Linked DNA regions of Homo sapiens: all the other regions are linked to region 1. Evidence: fine-mapped expression QTL. A gene starts in region 1. Each other region holds a variant in brackets. All regions are shown on one strand. Distances are between the middles of the regions.

Evidence for each region. PIP is the estimated chance that this variant, and not a neighbour inherited with it, causes the effect.
Region 2: its variant is fine-mapped to the expression of HPD in fibroblasts (GTEx, PIP above 0.99).
Region 3: its variant is fine-mapped to the expression of HPD in whole blood (INTERVAL, PIP above 0.99).

Annotation. Positions count from the first base shown.
Region 1 is chr12:121,854,631-121,862,779 of GRCh38, reverse strand. HPD (4-hydroxyphenylpyruvate dioxygenase) reads left to right here and starts at 3,921. Exons shown (of 14, transcript NM_002150.3): 1 at 3,921-3,959; 2 at 4,067-4,093; 3 at 4,961-5,023; 4 at 5,348-5,452; 5 at 6,155-6,197; 6 at 6,374-6,456; 7 at 7,988-8,077. The coding sequence starts at 3,957. TIALD (transcript inducer of AURKA lysosomal degradation) reads right to left here and starts at 6,527. Exons shown (of 3, transcript XR_002957437.2): 1 at 6,134-6,527; 2 at 4,942-5,161. RefSeq lists silencers at 463-757, 6,805-6,984 and enhancers at 1,745-2,261, 2,262-2,779, 5,800-6,999.
Region 2 is chr12:122,038,503-122,046,678 of GRCh38, reverse strand. BCL7A (BAF chromatin remodeling complex subunit BCL7A) reads right to left here. Exons shown (of 6, transcript NM_001024808.3): 4 at 2,626-2,793. Among named protein-coding and RNA genes, the nearest start is that of LINC02985, 21 kb to the left of the region's middle. The variant C/T (reference allele first, on the strand shown) is at 4,545.
Region 3 is chr12:121,875,544-121,883,719 of GRCh38, reverse strand. It overlaps a transcript of HPD not described here. Among named protein-coding and RNA genes, the nearest start is that of PSMD9, 9.2 kb to the left of the region's middle. RefSeq lists a silencer at 6,963-7,257. The variant G/T (reference allele first, on the strand shown) is at 3,967.

The sequences.
Region 1 (8,149 bases):
GAACCTTGGAGGTGGAGCTTGCAGTGAGCCGAGATTGCACCATTGCACTCCAGCCTAAAAAAAAAAAAAAAAAAAAAAAAAGCTTGCATTGAGCCGAGATGCCAAGATCACGCCACTGCACTCCAGCCTGGGCCACAGAGGGAGACTCTGTCTCAAAAAAAAAAAAAAAAAAAAAAAAAAAAAGGCCGAGAGCGGTGGCTCACGCCTGTAATCCCAGCACTTTGGGAGGCCGAGGTGGGCAGATCACCTGAGGTCAGGAGTTCGAGACATGCCTGACCAACATGGTGAAACCCCATCTCTACTAAAAATACAAAATTAGCTGGGCGTGGTGGCACATGCCTGTAATCCCTGCTACTTGGGATGCTGAGACAGGAGAATCGATTGAACCTGGGAGGCGGAGGTTGTAATAAGCCGAGATCGCACCATTGCACTCCAGCCTGGGCAGCAAGAGCGAGACTCCGTCTCAAAAAAAAAAAAAAAAGAAATGCAGAGCTGAAGAGCAGCCCAATGTAAATGGTCCCATTAGAGAGGAACTCTTTCATCATGGACATCTGTAAGTGACCCACACTGTCCAGCAGCATCCACGATGTTTGCACAGCATATGGCCCCAGGGAGGGATGTCTCTAATCTGCCAGGGTCCTAGAGTTAAAGTCCTGTGTGTTGAGTGGAGCAATTTTGCCCATTTTTTTAGTTTGGCAGAATTCATGCTGACACTGAAACAGCTCACAGCAGACAGCATCAGGTTTCAGCATTTTTTTTTCTCTTTTTTTAAGACAGGGTCTCACTCTGTCACCGAGGCTGGAGTGCAGTGGTGCGATCATAGCTCATTGCAGCCTCGACCTCTTGGGCTCAAGCAACCGTCCCCTTGCAGAGCTTTCAGCTTGGGATCAGGTTTGGAAAACTAGAATTCGTGAATTCAGGATTTTCTTCTGCAGTAGCTAAGCCAAGAGACTGTTTGTCTCGAGGCTAAGAGCGAAGCGAGGCTTTCTTAAGCCCTTTAAGTCTGTCAGTTTCAGAGCCCGGGTGGACGCCTGTAAAAAGATCCCTATCAGCTAGAAAATCATGACTCTAAGGGTCAGCTGTGTGGTTTCACAAGGGCTCATTAGCAACTAAAAACTGCTTTTTAAAACCCTGAAAGTGTATCTCCATTTAGAGATTGCCTCTTTTTCATGTTTTTTTCCAGAAGCTGTAATATTAGCAAACACTATAGTAAGAACTATCAGTAACTGAGACTTGTTCCATTTTATTTACTTACTTACTTACTTATTTCTTTATTTTGAGACAGGGTCTCATTCTGTCGCCCAGGCTGGAGCGCAGTGGCACAATCTCGCATTGCAACCTCCACCTCCTGGGTTCAAGTGATTCTCCTGCCTCAGCCTCCCAAGTAGCTGGGTGGGATTACAGGCACACACCACCACACCCAGCTAATTTTTTTTTTTTTTTTGAGACAGAGTCTTACTCTGTTGCTCAGGCTGGAGTGCAGTGGCATGATCTCGGCTCACTGCAACCTCCACCTCCTGGGTTCAAGCAATTCTCCTGTCTCAGCCTCCCAAGTAGATGGGACTACAGGTGCCTGCCACCATGCCCAGCTAATTTTTGTATTTTTAGTAGAGACGGTGTTTCACCATATTGGTCAGGCTGGTCTCAAACTCCTGACCTCAGGTGACCCACCCGCCTCAGCCTCCTAAAGTGCTAGGATTATAGGCATGAGCCACTGCATCCAGGCTAATTTTTGTATTTTTAGTAGAGATAGGGTTTCACCATGTTGGCCAGGCTGGTCTCGAACACCTAACCTCAAGTGATCCTCCCTCCTCGGCCTCCCAAAGTGCTAGGATTACAGGTGTGAGCCACTGGGCCCTGCCTTATCTATTTTTGATACAAGTTCTCACCCTGTTCCCCAGGCTAGAGTGCAGTGGCGTGATCATAGCTCACTGCAACCTTTAACTCCTGGACTCAAGTGATCCTCCCACCTCAGCCTCCTGAGTGGCTGGGGACTACAGGTGCTCACTACCAGGCCCAGCTAGGTGAATGCTTTTCTGCACACCAGGGTATTTTCAAGGATGCGTCCTATGAACCCATCTGATCAGTGAGCTTCTTGAGCAAGGCCTCTGGAACCCACCTCTGCATGGTCGGGCATGAAGAACAGAGACAGTCACACCCAGCCACTGCTGATCTGTTATCCAGTGGAGCCCAGCCTGAACAGAGAGCATCAGGGAGGGGACTCTGGATACTGGGCCCTGCAGGCTTGCCTCCCTGCTCTCTGCCCAGACATGTGAATGGCATCTAGGGGTGCACCCAGCATGGGACTGAGACCTACAGTGTTGGGGACAGAGTTCCTACCTCTAGATGCCTGCCAGCCTTTGCAACCCACTGCTGTTGACACACTTCCTTGAGTTAGTAAACATTGGCCTTTGTGCTTAGCATATAAGCCAGGGCAGGCTCCAGGAGTGGGGGTTTGAGTTGGCCACAGCAATCAAAGTGACAAGATGTTCCTGCTGGCCTGGAGGGGATAGGCAGGCTACACAGAGCTCTTCTCCTCCATGGGAACCTTCTGGGCCTGTGAGATCCACCCTGGGCCACCTCCACTCAAGTTTTCCCAGTTGGATATTTATTTATTTATTTGAGATGGAGTCTCACTCTGTCACCCAGGCTGGAGGGCAGTGGCATGATCACTGCTCACTGCAATCTCTGCCTCCTTGGTTCAAGTGATCCTCCTGCCTCAGTCCCCTGAGTAGCTGGGACTACAGACGTGCACCACCGTGCCCAGCTAATGTTTGTATTTTTAGTAGAGATGAGGTTTTACCATGTTGCCAGGCTGGTCTCAAACTCCTGGCCTCAAGTGATCCTCCCTCCTTGGCCTCCCAAAGTGCTGGGATTACAGGCGTGAGCCACCACCCCCGGCCCCCAGTTGGAAATTTAGACTTAAGGAGCTGAGGTGGACACTGGGAGCACACTGGGCAGGCCCAGGACAGGCAGAATAAGGGGGTGGGACCACCTTGCCTGCCTCCTGAATGGCCCAGAAAATAGAGAAAAGGAGGGAGAAGTGGTCTGCACTGGTGCAATGAGATCCAACTTCAGAATCAAACAGGCCAGAGTTTGGGGCTCTGCTCTTACCAGTTCCATGACCTGGGAGACATGTGTTCACCTCTCCAGGCCTCAGTTTCCCCATCTGATGGGGATATCAATATCTCCCATTTGTATAGAGGGCAATCTAGCAATTTAAAGTGTGGGTCCTGGAGTTAGAATAGCCCGGTTCATGTTCCAGTTCTTCCCTGCCGCTTGCTGACCTCATGGCCTAGGAATGTTCTCTGTCCCAATGAATTATAACCAACACTGAGAGTGTCCTGTGTGCCAGGTCCTGTTCCAAAGAGCGTGCTTATCTCCTTTAATCCCCACCACACTATTCTCATTCCTGTTTTACAAATGAGGCTCAAAGGGATATGGTGATTTTCCCAAGTCACACTGTATGTAACAGAGCCAGGATGCAAACCTTCTCCTGCCGTGCCTCTCAGAGCTATGGAATACAACGCTGTGACGCAAACAGGACTTTGGGGCCAGTCTCCAAATGCCCCCTCAAATTTCCTCTAGGCAAGAGTTCTGGAGCCGCCACTGCACTCCAGCCGGCCTTGGCTTCTGAGCTTTGGATTCTGGGCAGTAATGGTCACATTCCCAGCGTCCTGGAAAAGCTTGCCCTTGGCTTCTGGCCCTGACTCTGCCTCCCACTGACTAGTGGACGTCACTGCCCCTCTCTGGGCCTGGCAACACCATCCTGTTCAATGAGGCTGCGGCTGGATCAGAGGTCCCCAGGCCTGGAACCTTCCAGGGCTGGGCTCAGCTCCCCACCCCATCCCCCAGGTAGGCCAGGAGGCCTGGGCGGGACCTGCTTGGGGTTAAATACTCCGGCCCAGCACTCCCCAGGCCTCTAGTCCCAGTAGGAGGTTTGACTAAGATCAATCATGGTAAGTGCCATGGCCATCTCCCCTTGGGTGGGACATCTTCAGTAACGCTTCCAGAAGCACCTTGTGTTGGAACCTCCAAGTCTCACTGTCCTTCTTTTTCTCCTTAGACGACTTACAGTGACAAAGGGGCAAAGGTAAGCAGGCGAAATGTGGGAAATGTAGGGGCCTGAGTCTAGAAGGGGGTCGGAGTGCAGGGAGACTGGGGTTTCAGCAGAGAGCAGAAGAGGAAGGACTGGAGTGGATACATGACGTGCATGCCTGCACACTCAGCTTTACCCCCGGGGCTCCCCGAGACTGAGCTGGACTCAACCTCACCCTCACAACAAACTTGTATCCTGGCCGGGCATGGTGGCTCATGCCTGTAATCCCAGTGCTTTGGGAGGCCAAGGCAGGCAAATACTTGAGGTCAGGAGTTCGAGACCAGCCTGGTCAACATGAGGAAACCCCGTCTCTACTAAAAATACGAAAATTAGCCGGGCATGGTAGCGCACCCCTGTAATCCCAGCTACTCAGGAGGCTAAGGTGGGGGAGATCACTTGAACCCTAGGATCGCTTGAACCTGGGAGGCGGAAGTTGCAGTGAGCCAAGATTGCACCACTGCACTCCACTCCAGCCTGGGCAATAGAGCAAAACTCCATCTCAGAAACAAAAACCAAAACAAAACCTGTACCCCTTCTCAAATGCCTGCCAATCTTTTAATCCCATCTGGAAGTTCTTTCTAAGGTCTAACTTAAATCCATATTGCTGCAACATAAGTCTATTTCCCTGTGTGAAACCTTGGCAGGCCTCCTGAGGGGGTTTCCCCATCCAAGACACCCAGGAGCTCAACTTCCACATGAGAAACCTCTTTTGAGGCTTGGCAAGGCTGCATGGGGTTCCGCTGCTCCTAAGTTCTGTGGTTGAGGCTGGAATAAGGAGGGTGGCTAGGGGACATCACTCCACCCGCACTTTTCTAGACTCACTTTCAGGGACTCAACCTCACCTCTTCTCTCCTTCTGCAGCCTGAGAGAGGCCGATTCCTCCACTTCCACTCTGTGACCTTCTGGGTTGGCAACGCCAAGCAGGTAGAAGCCGGGGCAAGGTGCTGGAGTGAGCAGACGGCAGGGCAGAGGGCTGCCTGACAAGGGCAGGCCTCCAGCAGGGTCTGTGATTGGCCCTTGGGAGGGAGGATCAGGCCAGGGGTGGGCCAGATACTCTGAATCCTAATTACACCAGCGGGAAAGTTATCTGTCAGCAAAATGTGCAGGCAGCAGTCTATCTTCCCAGGAGGGTCTCTGCCCCTGAGGCAATAGGGCAGGCAGGCTGAGGGGGGCCAGGGGCTCTCTTGCGGAAGTCCCCCATGCTGGCCCCTTGACCCTCATGAACCCTGCTGCAACCCTGTGATTCAGGCCACGTCATTCTACTGCAGCAAGATGGGCTTTGAACCTCTAGCCTACAGGGGCCTGGAGACCGGTTCCCGGGAGGTGGTCAGCCATGTAATCAAACAAGGGAAGGTGAGTCACCACCCCCAGGACAGCCCCCAACCCCTGCCTGGCCAACATGGTGAAACCCCATCTCTATTAAAAATAGAAAAATTAGCTGGGCATGATGGTGGGCACCTGTAATCCCAGCTACTCAGGAGGCTGAGGCAGGCACATCGCTTGAACCCGGGAGGCAGAGGTTGCAGTGAGCCAACGTCGTGCCACTGCACTCCAGCCTGGGCGACAGAGCAAGACTCCATCTCAACAAAAAAAAACAAAAAACAACAAAAAACCCCAACAACAACAACAAAAACATATAATTCAGCTCCCACCGACCCCTCCGCTGGCATCTTTGTACAGCCATGCAACACGGCCCTTCCTAGTTTCGTTTCCTCCTCAGCCTGGCCCAACACTGACCCCACAGGTGCTCAGAAAACCTGGGATATCAGAGGAGAGGAATTTTAAGCAGTGCCCTGACCGATGGGGTCCCTGGAGTTCTCTCCCCGAGGGAGACCTGACCTAGCAGTTCCTCTGAGGATCCAGAGGGGGTCTGGCTGAAAGCCCCATCCCTCAGGACCAGTGTGGGAAACTAAGGCAGAGAAGGAGCTAGAACCCAGGTCCAGGAGTTCTTGTGCTCCATCAGGGGTGTTTCGGGTCGGCAGGGAGGGGCCGATGGGTGCACCTCCCCATGCCCCCCTGAGCCACTAGCCTCACCTCCTTCTCCTCCTATCTTAGATTGTGTTTGTCCTCTCCTCAGCGCTCAACCCCTGGAACAAAGGTGAGGTGCCCGGGGAGGGTGGACGCATGGCTCTGTGGGTGGGATCTGGGTTCTGGGAGGGTGGACGCATGGCTCCGTGGGTGGGCTCTGGGTTCAGGGCCTGGATGGAGACTAAAAGCCAGGTGAGGGGACCTAGACTCCAGACTCCAGTGCCATCCTCTCCCTGCCGGCCACAGAGATGGGCGATCACCTGGTGAAACACGGTGACGGAGTGAAGGACATTGCGTTCGAGGTGGAAGATTGTGACTACATCGTGCAGGTAAGAAAGCACCTGGGTGGACTGAGAGAGGAAGGCCTCCGTCTGCCATGGGGACCCCATCAGTCAGGGCTGGAAGGACACTGCTGCATCACAGTGACAAGCCCAGATGCCACATCACAGTGACAAGCTCAGATGCTGCATCACAGTGACAAGCCCAGATGCTGCATCACAGTGACAAGCCCAGATGCTGGTGTGACACACACCTGGGCTCCGGGGGTGCCCTGCCTTCCCCCGTGTCCTCTCTCTCACTGAGCCTCAGTTTCCACAGCTGCCAGATGGGGCTAACCACAGCTGGGTTGTCAAAGGAGGAAATTAGAATTACCATTTCCTTTTTTTTTTTTTTTTTTTTTTGTGAGACGGAGTTTTGCTCTTGTTGCCCAGGTTGGAGTGCAATGGCACGATCTCGGCTCACCGCAACTTCTGCCTCCTGGATTCAAGCAATTCTCCTGCCTCAGCCTCCTAAGTAGCTAGGATTACAGGCATGCGCCACCACGCCCGGCTAGTTTTGTATTTTTAGTAGAGATGGGGTTTCTCCTTGTTGGTCAGGCTGGTCATTTCCTTTTTTTTCTTTTTTCATTTTCTTTTTCTTTCTTTTGTGTGTGTGTGTGTGTCAGAGTCTTGCTCTGTTGCCCAGGCTGGAGAGCAGTGGCGCAATCTTGGCTCACTGCAACCTCCACCTCCTGGGTTCAAGCGATTCTCCTGCCTCAGCCTCCCGAGTAGCTGGGATTACAGGCGCCTGCCACCATGCCCAGCTAATTTTTGTATTTTAGTAGAGATGGAGTTTTGCCATATTGGCCAGGCTGGTCTTGAACTCCTGACCTCAAGTGATCCACCCACCTCGGCCTCCTAAAGTGCTGGGATTACAGGCATGAGCCATTTTGCCTGGCCTCAGAATTACTGTTTCTTGAGCACAACTCTAAACCAAACACTGTACCCAACAGGCAGCCTACAGATTCAGAGTGTGCGTTCCAGAGCCAGGCTCTCCAGGTCTGAATCTTAGCCGTGTGACTTCGGGCAAGTGACTTAATGTCTCTGTGCTTCAACGTCCTCACCTAGAGAATGGAGATGATAATAGTACTTTTGCATAATGTTGCTGTGAGGATGAACGAGGTTAGAATCTAGAACAGAGCCTGGTGCATGATATAAGCACTGTCATGCAGTCCAGTTTTGCTAAATAAATGCATGAATCTTCTTATTATTCTCATCCAACCATTCTTTTTACAGATGGTGAAATTGAGGACTAGAGAAGGGGACTGATCACAGGGGGAGTTAGCAGAGGCAGGACAGACACCCATCCCTACCTAGTTTGTCTCCCATAGCCCCAACTCTGGGCCTGGGCCTCAGTTTCCCTATTTGCCAAATGAGCATGAGTATTGGGGGTAATGGCTGAAGCTGGCTGGGGTTCCTACCTGGGGCTGGAGAAACTGGAGGGGCCTGCAGGACCACGCAGAGGCCACCAGGCAGGAGCAGCAGGCAAGGGTTCTGGAAGGCTCCAGCCCTCACCAATTCCCCGATCCCATCTTCTCTGCAGAAAGCACGGGAACGGGGCGCCAAAATCATGCGGGAGCCCTGGGTAGAGCAAGACAAGTTTGGGAAGGTGAAGTTTGCTGTGCTGCAGACGGTGAGTTCCCTTTGGTGCCCCCACCCCTCCTGCTGTCGGCACCACTGAGATGCCAGGAGCCCCGCAGCTGAC
Region 2 (8,176 bases), 180 kb before region 1:
ATTTTGACATCACATTCAAATTTAAAAAATGATACTGCAGGGTTCTGTATAGCCAGATTCTCACACCACGGGCTGGATAGAGTCTGTCTGCATCTCTGCCAATGAGTCCTTCGTTCCAGTGTCTGTCTCCCCTGCTGACCTATGGGTTCTTGGGGTGCAGGAAGCAGAGTGCAGCTATGACTGGGGCCCTGGCGCCAGCCCAGAGCCTCCTTGCACAGGGGTGCGGATCAGCTCTGCAGCAGGGGACAGCCTTTCTCCTAGAACCACACTGGCTGCTCCCAGGACACACACGCCCTGAGCCCTGGGGTGGCCCTAGCTGCAGGCTGGTCACATTTGCCATTCCACATTCCATGCTCGCCAGCTCCTCATGGGTGTGCAAGGCGCTCCAGACCTGGCCTGCCCTCCCCAGACCCGCTCAGCCACTGCTGTCCCTCCAGGTGCCCAGAGTTGCCCTCAGGTCCGCACTCACCCCTATGTACTGCCCAACACAGGCTCTCCCCTCACCTTCAAAATATACCTCCATGTTAGACCATCCGGAATGCTGCTCATTTTCTTAGATGCAGTAACGGTATTTGTAAATCTGTAAGAGAATGCCTTTTTTTTTTTTTTTTTTTTTTTAGCAAGGTCTCACCCTGTTACCCAGGCTGGAGTGGTGCAATCATGGCTCACTGCAGCCTCGACCTCTCAGGTTCAGTCGATCCTCCTGGGACTACAGGCGCATGCCACCATGCCGGGCTCATTTTTATATTTTTTGTAGAGACGGGGTTTCGTCTTCTTGCCTAGGGTGGTCTTGAACTCCTGGGCTCAAAAGATCCTCCTGCCTCAGCCTCCCAAAGTGCTGAGATTATAAGCATAAGCTACTGTGCCCAGCCCAGAATGTCTTTATTTTTAAAAGACACGTGCTGACATGTTTAGGGATGAAATGTCCTGAGATCTATAACTTACTTTCAAATGGTCCCAGAAAAAATACAAAGCAAAAGAAACCCAAAAGCCAACAATTGCCAAGTTCAGCAGGTGGATATATAGGACAGTATTATGCCATTCTTTTAATTTTTCTGTAGAGACTCAAAATAAACACACACAAATATTTGTGTACACATTCACACAATCACACACACACTCTCACACAATCACCCCATCATCTGTTCTTAATCCTTCAGATCATGTCACCCAAGCCCCCAGTGGCTCCCGTCTTACCATGAAAACCCAGGCCAGGCAGTGGCCTTACGAGCCCCCCACACCTGAGGCGCTGCCTGCTGTCTGACCCCGTATTATTATTAACTTTTTAAAATTTTTCTGAGACAGAGTCTTGCTCTATCGCCCAGACTGGAGTGCAATGGCACAATTTCGGCTCACTGCAACCTCCGCCTCCTGGGTTCAAGTGATTCTCTTGCCTCAGCCTCCTGACTAGCTGGAATTACAGGCACATGCCACCACACTCTGCTAATTTTTGTATTTTTAGTAGAGACAGGGTTTCACCGTGTTGGCCAGGCTGGTCTTGAACTCCTGACCTCAAGTGATCCGCCTGCCTCGGCCTCCCAAAGTGCTGGGATTACAGGCGTGAGCCACCGCGCCTGGTGCCCATCTTATTTTCCAGCTCCTCACTCACTCTTACCTCTGCCCACACTGCTCTCCTCCCAGATCCCCACATGGCTTGCTCAGTCGCCCAGTTTGAGCCTTGTCTTATTCAAAGGCCGCCCCGACCACCCCATTTAAAACTGCAACTCTCCAGGTCATTCAGCAAGACCCCCCACCCCTTTCCTACTTTATAATTCTCTGCCACACTTATCTTCCTAATACTAGGTTGTCTGATTTTTAAATACATTTAAAATTTATTAATATAATTATATTTTGAGCCAGGGTCTCACTCTGTCACCCAGGCTGGAGTTCAGTTGTGTGATCACGGCTCACTGCAGCCTCCAACTCCTGAGCTCAAGGGATACTCCCGCCTCAGCCTCTTGAGTAGCTGGGACCACAGGCACATGCCACCATGCCCAGCTCATCTTAAAGCATTTTTTTGTAGAGACAGGGTCTTGCTATGCTATCCAGGCTGGTCTCAAACTCTTGGCCTCAAGTGATCCTCCTGCTTCAGCCTTCCAAAGCATTAGGATTATAGGTGTGAGCCACCATGCCTGGCCAATTGTTTGATTTTTATTTATTTACTTATTATTGAGACAGGGTCTTATTGTCACCCAGGCTGGAGTGCGGAGGCATGATCATGGCTCACTGTAGTAGTCTTGACCTCCTGTGCTCAAGTGATCCTCCGACCTCGGCCTCCTGAGTAGCTGGATCACAGGTGTGTGCCACCACACTTGGCTATTTTTTTTTTTTTGGTAGAGATGAGGTCTTGCTATGTTGCCCAGGCTGGTCTTGAACTCCTAGGCTCAAGCAGTCCTCACACCTTGGCCTCCTAAAGTGCAGGGATTACAGGCATGAGCCACTGCACCTGGCCTGTCTGATTTTTTTAATTCCCCCACGAGACCATGTACTCCAGGTGTCACCTCTCTTTACTGTCTCCTTGCTGGGGCTGGCACATGACAGGGCCTCCTGGAACACCTAGCCACAGACTGCCTGAAGGCCGGTTACAGGGAGGCCGTCAGAGCCCCACCTCCAGAGGCCACATACCTTCAGCTCCTGGGTGCTCCTTCCCATCAGCCTGGGCCTCATCCACCTTGGCCTCGGTGCCGTCGCTGGGCACAGCCGAGTTGGGCTCTGGAGCGGGGCTGGAGTTGCTGCTGTTCTCCTGTTTGATGGGGGAGGCATCTGCGATGGAGCTCTGGTTGCTGTTATCGTCTGTAGGGGGTGGGAACAGAACCACAGGATGAAATCCCACAGCTGCCAAGGACGGGTAGGTCAGAGGGCTCAGCATCCCTGTGCCTCAATGCCCGGAACCCCATGGCAGCTCTCCCGGGGAGGGGTCTGGTTACCGTTTTTTTTTTTTTTGAGACGGATCTCGCTCTGTCAACCAGGCTGGAGGACCGTGGTGCAATCTTGGCTCACTGCCTCCACCTCCCGAGTAGCTGGGATTACAGGTACTTGCCACCACGCCTGGCTAATTTTGTATTTTTAGTAGAGATGGGGTTTCACCATGTTGGCCAGACCCGTCTCGAACTCCTGACCTCAGGTAATCCTCCTGCCTCGGCCTCCCAAAGTGGTGGGATTACAGGCGTTGAGCCACTGCACCCGGCCGTGTGGTAGGGGTCTGGATACTGGATACGCCTCCTCCTGGGACCCCTGAGCTCACTCCCGCCCCCTGACCCCCACCCACCCACCCACCCAAGCACCACAGCCATCCCATGTGTCCAGAGAGGCAAAGAATTCCGGCACTGGCCTGACCTTCCCCACACTGAGCCAACTGTACCCTGCGTCTGGAGGCAGCCAGCTGGGGATGGTGGCCTAACATATTTAAAATCCTGGGGGGACATTTGAGGCCTCATTCTGGGTGTAGAAACCAGACGTCTTGTGTGTCTGGCAGGGAAGCGATACAGAAGACACGGCATGGTCCGTGAGGCGGGATTGCCAAGGCGTTCTGTCTGACTGCATCCAGCCTGGAGCTGAGTTCCACTTGATAGGAAATAAAAGGGAGAGAGAGACAGCGGGAGGTGGCATATTCCACGGGACACGTGGTCCACTCCCTTAAAGTCAGTATCATATTTAAAAAAAAAAAAAAGTTGGGGGAGGGGAGATGACTTTAGAATAAAGAAAGCTAGGAGACTCGACTAAATATGATGTATGGAAATGATTTGGATCCTGTTTCAAACGTGCCAGCTGTAACACTTTGGAACAATTGGGGAATTTGAATATGGTCTGGGTTTTAAAAGCTATTAAGGAACTGTTGTTAATTTAGTTAGAAGTGATCATGGGACAGTGGGTATGTAGAAACGTCATATTTTCAGCAATGCATGCTATGACGTTTAGGTGCAGACTTGAATGTCATGAGGCAGGGAAATTTACCAGAAAATACTTCAGTGCAGGCTGCCGGCCACTGTCAGGACTCCCTGAACTTTTACACTTTTTTTTTTTTTTTTTGAGATGGAGTCTTGCTCTGTCGCCCAAATTGGAGTGCAATGGCGCGATCTGGGCTCGCTGCAACCTCCACCTCCTGGGTTCAAGCAATACTCCTGCCTCAGCCTCCCAAGTAGATTACAGGCGCCTGCCACCATACCTGGCTGAGTTTTGTATTTTTTAGTAGAGACGGGTTTCTCCATGTTGGCCAGCCTGGTCTCGAACTCTTGGCCTCAGGTGATCTGCCCACCTCAGCCTACCAAAGTGCTGGGATTACAGGTGTGAGCCATCACACCCGGCCACTAGCTGTGTATTTTTTATATGTGAATTATATTTTAATTACAAAAATCTAACACATTGAAAAAATAGATGAGACAAATGTGGCACCGTGTTCATGAAAATCAAGGTGGAGTGTACAGGGGGATCGTATTCCTCTCTCTACTGTTCTTGACAACAAAACCCTTCACAATACAAAGAAGAAAGAGAAGGGGTAATTGGGCAATGGCATTTACAGTTGGGCTGGGGGCAGAGCTGGGGCC[C/T]GGGCTGCACCTCCCCTTGTCCTGCACCCCCTTCTCAGGCACAGAGTCACTCTATTTATTTTTTTGAGATGGAGTCTGTCACCCAGGCTGGAGTGCGGTGGCGCGATCTCGGCTCACTATAATCTCCACCTCCTGGTTCAAGCGATTCTCATGCCTCAGCCTCCCAGGTAGCTGGGATTACAGGCATGCACCAACATGCCCAGTTAACTTTTGTTTTTATTATTTTTTAGTAGAGACGGGGTTTCGCCATGTTGGTCAGGCTTGCTCTTGAACTCCTGACCTCAGGTGATCTGCCCGCTTCAACCTCCCAAAGTGCTGGGATTACAGGAGTAAGCCACCACACCCAGCCATTTATGTATTTTTTATTTTTAGAGACAGGGTCTTGCTCTGTTGCCCAGGCTGGAGTACAGCAGCACAATCATAGCTCACTGCAGCCTCGAACTCCTAGGCTCAAGCCATCCTCCTGCCTCTGCCTCCTGAGTAGCTGGGGCCACAGGCATGTGCCACTGCATCTGGCTAATTTTTAAGTTTTTTGTAGAGATGGGGTCTCACTATGTTGCCCAGGCTGTCTTGGACCCCTGGGCTCAAGTGATCCTCCTGTCTTGGCCTCCCAAAGCACTGAGATCATAGGCCTGAGCCACTGTGCCCAACCTAGGAGAGTCGTTTTAAACAGCAGAGACCCAAGTGGAGGTTTCAAAACCAAAGCAGCCTTTCTGGGGGCCATGCTGCACCCGGGGCGATGGCCACTTTTGTAAACATGAGAAAGAGACAGAGACACCCCAACAGACCTGGGCACCTGCCACCATGCCAGGCACTGGGCAGAAGCATTTATGGACACCTCGTGGAATCCTCCCCACAACCCGTTGGAAAGGCACCGTTACCACCTTCACTTTCCGGAGGGGGAAACTGAGGCTGGGAGCAGCAGAGCCACTTGCCGGACCCATCTGCCCAACTCCCAGCCCCACGCCCCTCCTCTACCTCAACCTGCCGAGGAAGCACCAGGCAGTCAGGCGGCCCCACACGGGTAACCTGGATCTGATTTTAACTGTACTCTGGGGTGCTCGTTACACAAAAGCATCCTCTTGTGAATTCTGGGACTTAAAAAAAAAAAAGAAGGATGTGTGCTCCCCGATTTCTCCCTTGAGAAAAACTAGACTTCCTTCCTATGGCAAGCACACGCGCAAGAGGCTGGCCCCGTAGGTTCCTGAGGCTCTGTTAATGAATGACAATGAGCACTAATGTTTAACGTCTGGTCTAGCCTGGTAGCCTGGTAACAGCGTGACCCTGATACTTGGGCTAACTTCAGCTGAGTCTTGTGGACTAAAGGGCCCGGGGCACCGCCCTCTCCTTCATCCCCTGCTGTACCCATCCTCCCACTTGAAGCCTTCCAGAAAACTTGCCCGGCCCACACCTTTCCCTGACCTTCCCATTTACACACTCTGCAGTCTGACTGGCTTTCGGCTGCACGTGCACTAAAATGAAAATCAGAAAGTCAACAGGGCACCTGTGTCTGGGGACCTGGTTTGTTCAGCATCCTAGATTTTTCTGGAGAGTTTATCCAGGTCACAAATCTGGATCTTTTGGTTTTTTTTTTTTTTTTTTGGAGACACGGCCTCACTCTCTTGCCCAGGCTGGAGTGCAGTGGTGCAATCTTGGCTCACTGCAACCTCCCCTTCCCGATTCAAGGGATTTTCCTGCCTCAGCCTCCCGAGTAGCTGGGATTACAGGTGCCCACCACCATGCCCGGCTAATTTTTGTATTTTTAGTAGAGATGGGGTTTCACCATTGTTTGGCCAGGCTGCTCTCCAACTCCTGACCTTAAACGATCCTCACAACTTGGCCTCCCAAAGTCCTAGGATTATGGGTGTGAGCCACCACGGCCAGCCACAAACCTGGATTCTGTCTTCAAAGAACCAACCTCAAATGCCATCAATGGCACTGGAAGTTATGAACTTGCTAACCATGCATGTTACTTCACCTCACTGGGCCTTAGTTTCTCCATCTGTAAAATGCGGTTGGTTATTAGACTCAAATGAGGCAATGATGTAACGGGCTTAGCACAATACTTGGCACATTGTGACGGTTTCATAAATGTGAGCTGTTAACATGCCAAGGTTTTTAAAATTTTTATTATAGGCTGGGCACAGTGGATCATGCCTATACTCCCAGCACTTTGGGAGGTTGAGGGAGGAGGATTGCTTGAACTCAGGAGTTTGGAAACAGCCTGGGCAACATAGCAAGACCCTGTCTCTATTTTTGAATACAGTAAAATAATTTTTTTTTTTTATGGAGTCTTGCTCTGTCGCCCAGGCTGGAATGCAGTGGCATGATCTCAGCTCACTGCAACCTTTGCCTCCAGGTTCAAGTGATTCTCCTGCCTCAGCCTCCCAAGTAGCTGGGATTACAGGCGTGTGCCACCACACCCAATAATTTTTGTATTTTTAGTAGAGATGGGATTTTACCATAGAGACCAGGCTGGTCTCCAACTCCTGACTTCAAATGATCCTCCCATCTCGGCCTCCTAAAGTGCTGGGATGACAGGCATGAGCCACCACACCTGGCCCAAAATAAAATATTTACTATAATTATATTATATATTATATTATATAATATATATAATATATATATTATATATATATATATATTTAAGAGATGGGGTCTTGCTCTGTTGCCCAGAGTGGAATGCAGTGGTGCAATTACTGTTCACTGCAGCCTCCAACTCCCAGGTTCAAATGATCCTCAGCCTCCAGAGTAGCTGTGACTATAGGTGCGCATCACCACAACCTGCTAATTTAAATTTATTATTATTATTATTTTTTTTTTTAATCTATTTTTTTTTAGACTGAGTCTTGCTCTGTCGCCCAGGCTGTAGTGCAGTGGCGTGATCTTGGCTCACTGAAAGCTCCACCTCCCAGGTTCACGCCATTCTCTTGCCTCAGCCTCCCGAGTAGCTGGGACTACAGGCACCAGCCACCACGCCTGGCTAATTTTTTTGTATTTTTAGTAGAGATGGGGTTTCACCGTGTTAGCCAGGATGGTCTCGATCTCCCAACCTCATGATCTGCCCGCCTTGGCCTCCCAGAATGCTGGGACTATAGATACGAACCACCTATTGTTTTTTTTGTAGAGATGAGGTCTCCCTGTGTTGCCCAGGCTGGTCTCAAACTCCTGGGCTCAAGTGATCCTCCTAACTCGGCCTCCCAAAGTGCTGGGATTACAGGTGTGAGCCACTGTGCTTGGTCCCATGCCAAGGTTTTTAAGAGATTATTTAATTTAATCCTCACAGTGAGTTTATGAAGTAGGCATTACCATCCCCATTCTACAGATTAAAACTAAACAAACCCCAAAGCTAGAGGTTAAACAAATAGCCCAAGATCACACAGCCAGGGGAAGGTGCAGGGAGAGTTAGGATGTGAACCCAGGTGGGGTCCTGGCCTCAGCTCGAAAAGGCCCTCTGGTGTAATTCTGCGTCTGTAATCCAACCTCAGTCCTGAGTCGGGCGTGGGGTCTCCCCAGTCCCCAGAGGGAAAGGGGATGCTAAGGAATGCCACTGAGACAGGCCACATCCCAGCTCACATATCTATTTCTGAAAATGAAACATAACCCAACTATGATTGTATGGCTGGTTGGGG
Region 3 (8,176 bases), 21 kb before region 1:
TGGCAAGACCCAGTTTCTATCAAAAAAAAAAAAAAAAGAAAGAAGGAAAAGGAAAAGTTGGTTGTGTGGGGGAACTATCTTGCAGTTCTTCTGAGGTTTGAAATTTTTCCAAATAAAAAGGGTGAGGAGAAGATTCTTACCCATGCGGTCTGAAAAGAGAGCTGTTGTTAGGTTACTACATTATGAGCTTGTCAATATTGCTGTCATTATAATAAACCTCTATCCTGTGACTGCCTTCATAGCTCCCAAATCCACCCATCTCCTCCACCTCTACTCCTACCCCGCCACCTCTTCCTCCTGATTGGGCAGTCTTTGAACTGTCTCAGGTTGCGCACTTTAACCCAGTCTCCAAAGCAGCCAGAACAACCTTCCCAAGAGTGACATTGGCACGCTACTGCTTAATGGCTTCAGTGCCCTTCTCTTGGCCTTTAAGACTCCTGATCTCTGCTTGCCTTTAGACCACCTCCCATCCCTGTACCCCACCACACACACACACACACACACACACACACACACACACACACACACACACACACACAACTTATGCTCCAGCCATGCTGAACTTCTAACAGTTTCTGGCACGTTTTTTGCTCAGTCTCTCTTAGCACTGGGTCTTAGCACCTGCTCTTCCCACCCTGGAACACCATCTCAGGCCAGGCTGACTTGAACCTCTCCTTCAAGATCCAGCTCAAGGCTGGGTGAGGTGGCTCACACCTGTAATCCCAGCACTTTGGGAGGCCGAGGCGGGTGGCTCACTTGAGGTCGGTAGTTCAAGACCAGCCTGGCCAACATGGTGAAACCCCATCTCTACTAAAATAGATTAGTTGGGTTTGGTGGCAGGTGCCTGTAATCCCAGCTACTCAGGAGGCTGAGGCAGGAGAAGCTGGGAGGCAGAGGTTGCAGTGAGCTGAGATTACACCACTGTACTCCAGCCTGGGCAACAGAGCAAGACTCCCTCTCAAAAACAAAAAGAAAAAGATCCCTCTCAAAAACAAAAAGAAAAAGAAATACTACCTCCCTGGAAATCATTATGTGTCCCACCCCACAGCTGGGCTGTTTTCTGCACTTTTCACTTGGTATTGTAAATGCATGTTTACCTGTCTGTCCCATGCACTGGAGATTCTTAGAGAATGTGGACTGAGGCTTGTTTATCTTCAAATGTTGGACTGTTTGAGGATTGCAAGGGAACAGTCTGAGAGAGCTGTCTTTCCCCTTTCCAGTTGTTCTGTTTCATCTTCCCTGCAGTGGCCACAGACAGCCCAGCAAAACCTTTGTTTTAGAAAGCTGCCAAGATCTAGGAGAACTTCAGTTGCCTCTCTCAAGCTTTCACATCTTGCTCATCTTCATTTCAGAACGAGAGGTAGGCCAAGAGACAAACACATGGGAAATAGAGCCAGGGAACTAGAGATCCCTGGCGAGACCTGGTTGGTCAGAATTCATACTGCCTGACTTGAGGACCACCACACTTTCCATGTTTCACCTCACTCTGGCCCAGGAATCCTACAAACGACAAATCCTCCCCTCGTTTCCTGAATCTATAAAACAAGGGTCTGGACTCTGACAGCCATAAAGGTGGCAGGCTCGCTCATGAGTTGGCCCCCTAAAAGTTTTTAAGAATTGTAAATTAGTTGCTTAATCAGGCCAGCACAGTGGCTCATGCCTGTAATCCCAGCACTTTGAGAGGCCTAGGCGGGAGGATCACCTGAGGTCAGGAGTTCAAGACCAGCCTGGCGAACATGGTGAAACCCCATCTCTAATGAAAATACGAAAATTAGGTTGGGCGCGGTGGCTCACGCCTGTAATCCCAATAGTTTGGGAGGCTGAGGTGGGCGGATCATGAGGTCAGGAGATCAAGACCATCCTGGCCAACATGGTGAAACCCTGTCTCTATTAAAAATACAAAAAATTAGCTGAGCATGGTGGCACATGCCTATAGTCCCAGCTAGTTGGGAGGCTGAGGCAGGAGAATCGCTTGAACCCGGGAGGCGGAGTTTGCAACGAGCCAAGATCGCACCACTGCACTCCAGACTGGCGACAGAGCAAGACTCCATCTCAAAACAAAACAAACAAACAAACAAAAAAACAAAGTCATGGGAGCAGATAAGGATAATGAAGCCACCTGGGGCTGGTGAGCATGGGGTCTCTTACCCCACCCCTTAAGCCTAAAGGGGCAAGAGAAGGGAGGGTTTGGAAACCTAGAGAGAGTTGTAGTCACCCAACAGGAGTGTGGCCTTCAGTACAGGGACATAGCTGCTGCTAAAACAGCTGCTAAAACAACGTCTGGCAGGGAGGAAGCCAAGGAAGAGATACCCCCACTTGTCTCTCCTCTCCTTTCCTGCCAGGGTCTCAGGTTGGCTGAAGGTGATAAGGCTTGGGGCACAGAGAAGGGCAGGGAGGGAAGAGATTTGGAGGGGCTAAAGGAATATCCACCACAGTTGCCAATAATTAAGCATTTGGAAAAGTAAGATGCAGAGACCCACATAGTAAATCATCCTATTTTTATTCAGTAAAGTCAACTCCCCCATAGAATGGAAAAAGGGAAGCAGTTATACCTGTGAGGGTGTTAATATTTAGTACCTGGGCAGAGCGTGGAGCAGAGCAGAAAGTAATTTTTAAAAATAAGATACTGGGTTGTGCACGTTGGCTCACGCCTGTAATCCCAACACTGGGAGGCCAAGGTGGGCAGATCACCTGAGGTCAGGAGTTCGAGACCAGCCTGGCCAACATGGCGAAATCCTACTACTAAAAATACAAAAAATTAGCCTGGCGTGGTGGGACACACTTGTAGTCCCAGCTACTTGGGAGGCTGATGTGGGGGGATTGCTTGAGCCTGGGAGGCAGTGGTTGCAGTGAGCTGAGGTCACGCCACTGCACACCAGCCTGGGTGACAGATTGAGACCCTTGAAAATAATAACAATAATAAGATACTGCCTGGCATGGTGGCTCATGTCTGTAATCCTAGCATGTTGGAAGGCCAATGCAGGAGAATCACTTGAGGCCAGAAGTTTGAGACTAGCCTGGGCAACATGACAAGACTCTGTCTCTACAAAACATAAAATAGTAATAAGATACTTATTAATATAAATTCAGAGTAATTTAATAAAGCAATTGTTAAAGAGCATTAAACTCTACATTCAAATGAGCTAGATCACCATCCATGCTGTTTCTAATGGGAAGATCTTGGTAATGCTTGATTCTAGGAGCTGGTTAAAGAAATCATGGTACAGGCCGGGCATGGTGGCTCACGCCTATAATCCCAGCACTTTGGGAGGCCAAGGCGGGTGGATCACGAGGTCAGGAGTTCAAGACCAGCGTGGCCAAGATGGTGAAACCCCATCTCTATTAAAAATTCAAAAATTATCTGGGTGTGATGGTGGGCGCATGTAATCCCAGGGAAGCGGAGGCAGGAGAATCTCTTAAACCTGGGAGGCAGAGGTTGCAATGAGCCGAGATCATGCCACTGTACCCGAGTCTGGGCGACAGAGCAAGACACCATCTGAAAAAAAAAGAAAGAAAGAAAAAAGAAATCATGGTACAGCCTTTCTTTTTTTTTTTTTTTCTTTTTTTCATTTTGATACAGGGTCTCGCTCTGTCACTCAGGCTTGAGTGTAGTGGTGCAATCATGGCTCACTGCAGCCTCAACCTCCCAGGCTCAAGCAATCCCCCCACCTCAGCCTCCCCAATAGCTGGGACCATATACATACACCACCACACCCAGCTAATTTTTAAATTTTTGTAGAGATCTGTTCTGGCCATTGTCCAAGCTGGTCTCGAATTCCTGGGCTCAAGTGATCCACCCACCTCTGCCTCCCAAAGTGCTGGGATTACAGGCATGAGCCACTGCACCTGGCCCCACCCAGTATAGCTTTTCAATGAAACACACACATATACACACACCAGGTGAACATGTGTATTTATTGCCATGACAAAAGTGTTTACAAAGTATATGTAAAAAAATTAGCATAA[G/T]TATCAAATCATATGTATCATTATCTGTATATCTTGTCATATCTATATATGTTTATACATTTTTAGAAAGTAGTCTGTGTGGGCCAGGCATGGTGGTGCTTGCCTGTAGTCCCAGCTACTCAGGCCGAGATGGGAGGATCCCTTGAGCCCAGGAGTTTAAGGCTGCACTGAGCTGATCACACCACTGCACTCCAGCTTGGGCAACAGAGAAAGACCCCATCAAATAAGAGAAAAGAAAAGAAAAGAAAAAAGAGAAGAGAAGAGAAGAGAACAGAAGAGAAAAGGAAAGAAAAGAAAAGAGTAGTCTGGGTGGGCATTCCCAGATCATCCAAGGTGGTTGTCTGTAGATGAAGGATTATCAGTAGGCTTGTTTTCTTTACTTTTTTTTCCTCTTAATTATGTGTATTTTCATCCCCCCACCCCGCCCCAACCAAGTTGTATTAGTTATTTTTTAATTAATTATTTATTTATTTATTTAGACAGATTTTCCCTCTTGTTGCCCAGACTGGAGTGCAATCTCGGCTCATTGCAACCTCCGCCTCCTGGGTTCAAGCAATTCTCTGGCCTCAGCCTCCTGAGTAGCTGGGATTACAGGTGCCCACCACCACGCCTGGCTAATTTTTGTATTTTTAGTAGCGACAGAGCTTCGCCAAGGTGGCCAGGCTGGTCTCAAACTCCTGACCTCAGGCGATACACCCGCCTCAGCCTCCCAAAGTGCTGGGATTACAGTCAGAAGCCACCTCACCCGGCCTATAAGTTATGTATTAAAGAACAAAATAAGTCAGTCATGGTGGCTCACATCTGTAATCTCCACACTTTGGGAGGCCAAGGCGGGAGGATGGTTTGAGCCCAGGAGTTTGAGACCAGCCGAGACAACATAGTGAGACCCCCATCTTTGCCAAAGGAAAAAAAAATAGCCTGGTGTGGTAGCACATGCCTGTAGTCCCAGCTGCTGGGGAGGCTGAGGTGGGAGGATCACTTGAGCCCAGGATTTTGAGGCTGCAGTGAGTTATGATGGTGTCACTACACTCCAACCTGGGCAACAGAGTGAGAACCTGTCTCAAAAAAAAAAAAAAAGAACGAAAAACCAAAACACATATCTGTAACCTGGGCACAGTGGTTCATGCCTGTAATCCCAACACTTTGGGAGGCTGAGGTGGGTGGATCACTTGAGGTCAGGAGTTTGAGACCAGCCTGGCCAACATGGCAAAACCTCATCTCTACTAAAAATACAAAAATTAGCCGGGCGTGGTGGCGTACGCCTGTAATCCCAGCTACTTGGGAGGCTGAGGCAGGAGAATTGCTTGAACCCAGGAGGTAGAGGTTGCAGTGAGCCAAGATCATACCACTATACCCCAGCCTGGGCGACAGAGTGAGACTATCTCAATAAAAAAACAAAACAAACAAAAAACCACATAGCTGAGCTGGTTAAACAGGTGTGTTCTGTTTGTGACAATTCAGAGCTATACACTTATGCACTTCTCCATGTATACTCATCTTCAATAAAAATGCTATTTCCCAATATCTAAAAACGCACAAAATCATAAAGAAAAATTTAAAACCAATTCAATTTATTGAGATGAGAGTCACAAAACAGTGAAAACATTCAGCAGCATTTAGTAATTCACAATGTTGTGCAACCACCACCTCTATCTGGTTCCAGAATACTTCTTTCCATCACCCCAAAAGGACACCCATTCTCCTTAAGCAGTCACTTTCCCTTCCTCCCTCCCCGCAGAGCCCGGCAGCCACCAGTCTGCACTGTGGGTCTGTGGATTTACCTATTCTGGATATTTCATACAAATAGAATTCAAAACAAGACAATCTTCAAATCAAAGGATTTCACATAAAAATTCACATTGCTAACTTCTTTTGAACAAAATCCGGCCACACCAGGCCCATGTACCCACAGGCAACAACTGTCTGGAGCTAAGTTACTGCCCTCGTTGGCAGAGTGTGGGGGTGGGATGCAGCTTTCCCCAATCCCACCCAGCTCTTCTGTTTATTATTATTATTATTTTGAGACAGAGTCTCAATCCGTCACCCAGGCTGGAGCGCAGTGGCACGATCTCAGCTTACTGCAACCTCCACCTCCCAAGTTCAAGCTATTCTGGTGCCTCAGCCTCCTGAGTAGCTGGGATTACAGGCATGTGCCACCACACTCGGCTCATTTTTGTATTTTTAGTAGAGATGGGGGTCTTACCATGTTGGCCAGGCTGGTCTCGAACTCCTGGCCTCAAGTGATCCACCTGCCTCTGCCTCCCAAAGTGCTGGGACTACAGGCGTGAACCACCGCGCCCAACCTCACCCAGCTCTTCTCTGTTGCTCTCCTGGCACATTTAGGTTTCAGGTCTGTGGCCAGCAGCCTCTCACACCCCTCTCATTTGTAAAAATCTGGAGGGGCTCTAGAGGCAGTAAGGCACACCAGAAAGGATGAAAAACTAGGATTTGGGGTAAGGAGAGATGAATCCCAACTCTACCTACTAGTATGAGCCAGTTAGCTTCTCTGAGTCTCAGTTTCTTCAACTGTACAATGGGTAGAATAATACCTCCCTCACAGGGTGGTTGTGTTGCATGCAAAGCACTGGACATGTAGTCACTCACTTCTATCCCTGTAGGTAACAGAGACTCATAACAGTTCTTTTTTTTTTTTTTTTTTGGAGATGGAGTCTTGCTGTGTCACCCAGGCTAGAGTACAGTGACGCAATCTTGGCTCACTGCAACCTCCGCCTCCTGGGTTCAAGCAATTCTCCTGCCTCAGCCTCCCTTGTAGCTGGGCTTACAGGCGTGCACCACCATGCCCGGCTAATTTTTGTATTTTTAGTACAGACGGGGTTTCACCATGTTGGCCAGGCTGGTCTCGAACTCCTGACCTCAAGTGATCCTCCCACTTCAGCCCACTTCAGCCTCCCAAAGATCTGGGATTACAGGCATGAGCCACCGCGCCCTGCCACAGTTCTTCCTAAGACTCGGAAATGGGGATGGGGGTTCAGAGAGGTTAAGCCATGTATTGAAGGCAATTCAGCAAATCAGAGGCCAAAGAGAACTCCCCATTGCCCTTGCCAACGATGAAAGTCAGTGCTCCAAACTGAAGGGTGGGAGACGTATGCAAGCATGGGGACTTTGGATGATGAGGACACAGGTTCAGCCTGAAAGGGATCGATGGCTGGGCTTGAGTAACCTTACCCTCCGCTTATGCAAGTGATGGAGCTACTGACGTGATGGTAATTTAGCCTGAGAGGAAGGAAAAGCCCTTTGATGTACCCCGGGCCTTGATCCCGTATCAGCTGTTCGGCCTCCCTGGTGGCTGTTTTCCCTATCATGGGGGCCTCCCACCTCTAAACCTCAGGCAACGAAAGCAGGGAAGTAGCTCCTATTCACTCAGGAGAGCCCACGGTCAATTCTCCAGGAAGTTTGTGGGCCAGTTTTTATTATTATTATTTTTTAGACACAGTCTCGCTGTGGCCCAGCCTCAAGTGCAGTGGCACAATCTTGGCTCACTGCAGCTTCCACTTCCTGGGTTCCAGCGATTCTCCTGCCTCAGCCTCTCAGGTAGCTGGGACTACAGGCGCCCGCCACCACGCCCAGCTAATTTTTGTATATTTAGTAGAGATGGGGTTTCGCCATTTTGACCAAGCCTGTCTGAAACTCCTGACCTCAGGTGATCCTCCCACCTCGGCCTTCCCAGGTGCTGGATTACAGGCGTGAGCCACCACGCCTGGCCTCAACTTCCTAATCATTTTTACTAAGTTTTAGTATCACCAATGCTGTCTCTTCTCTTCTCTACTCTGTTCTTTTTGAGATGGGATTTTGCTTTGTTGCCCAGGCTGGTCTTGAACTCCAGGACTGAAATGATCCTCCAGACTCAGCCTCCCAAAATGGTGGGAATATAGATGTGAGCCAATGTACCCAGCCTCATCTGTGCTTTTGGGGTTATTTACTTCTGTTTGTATCCGTTTGGTATGTACTGTACTTAGCTTAACCCCAAGTTCAATGACTTCATGTTGATACTCGAAATTGACCATACCGGCCAGGTGCAGTGGCTCATGCCTGTAATCCCAACACTTTGGGACGCCGAAGTGGGCAGTGTACTTGAGCCCAAGAGTTTGCCACCAGCCTGGGCAACATGGTGAAACCCTGTCTATATAAGAAATTCAAAAATTAGCCGGGCTTGGTGGCACATACCTATAATTCCAGCTACTTGGGAGGC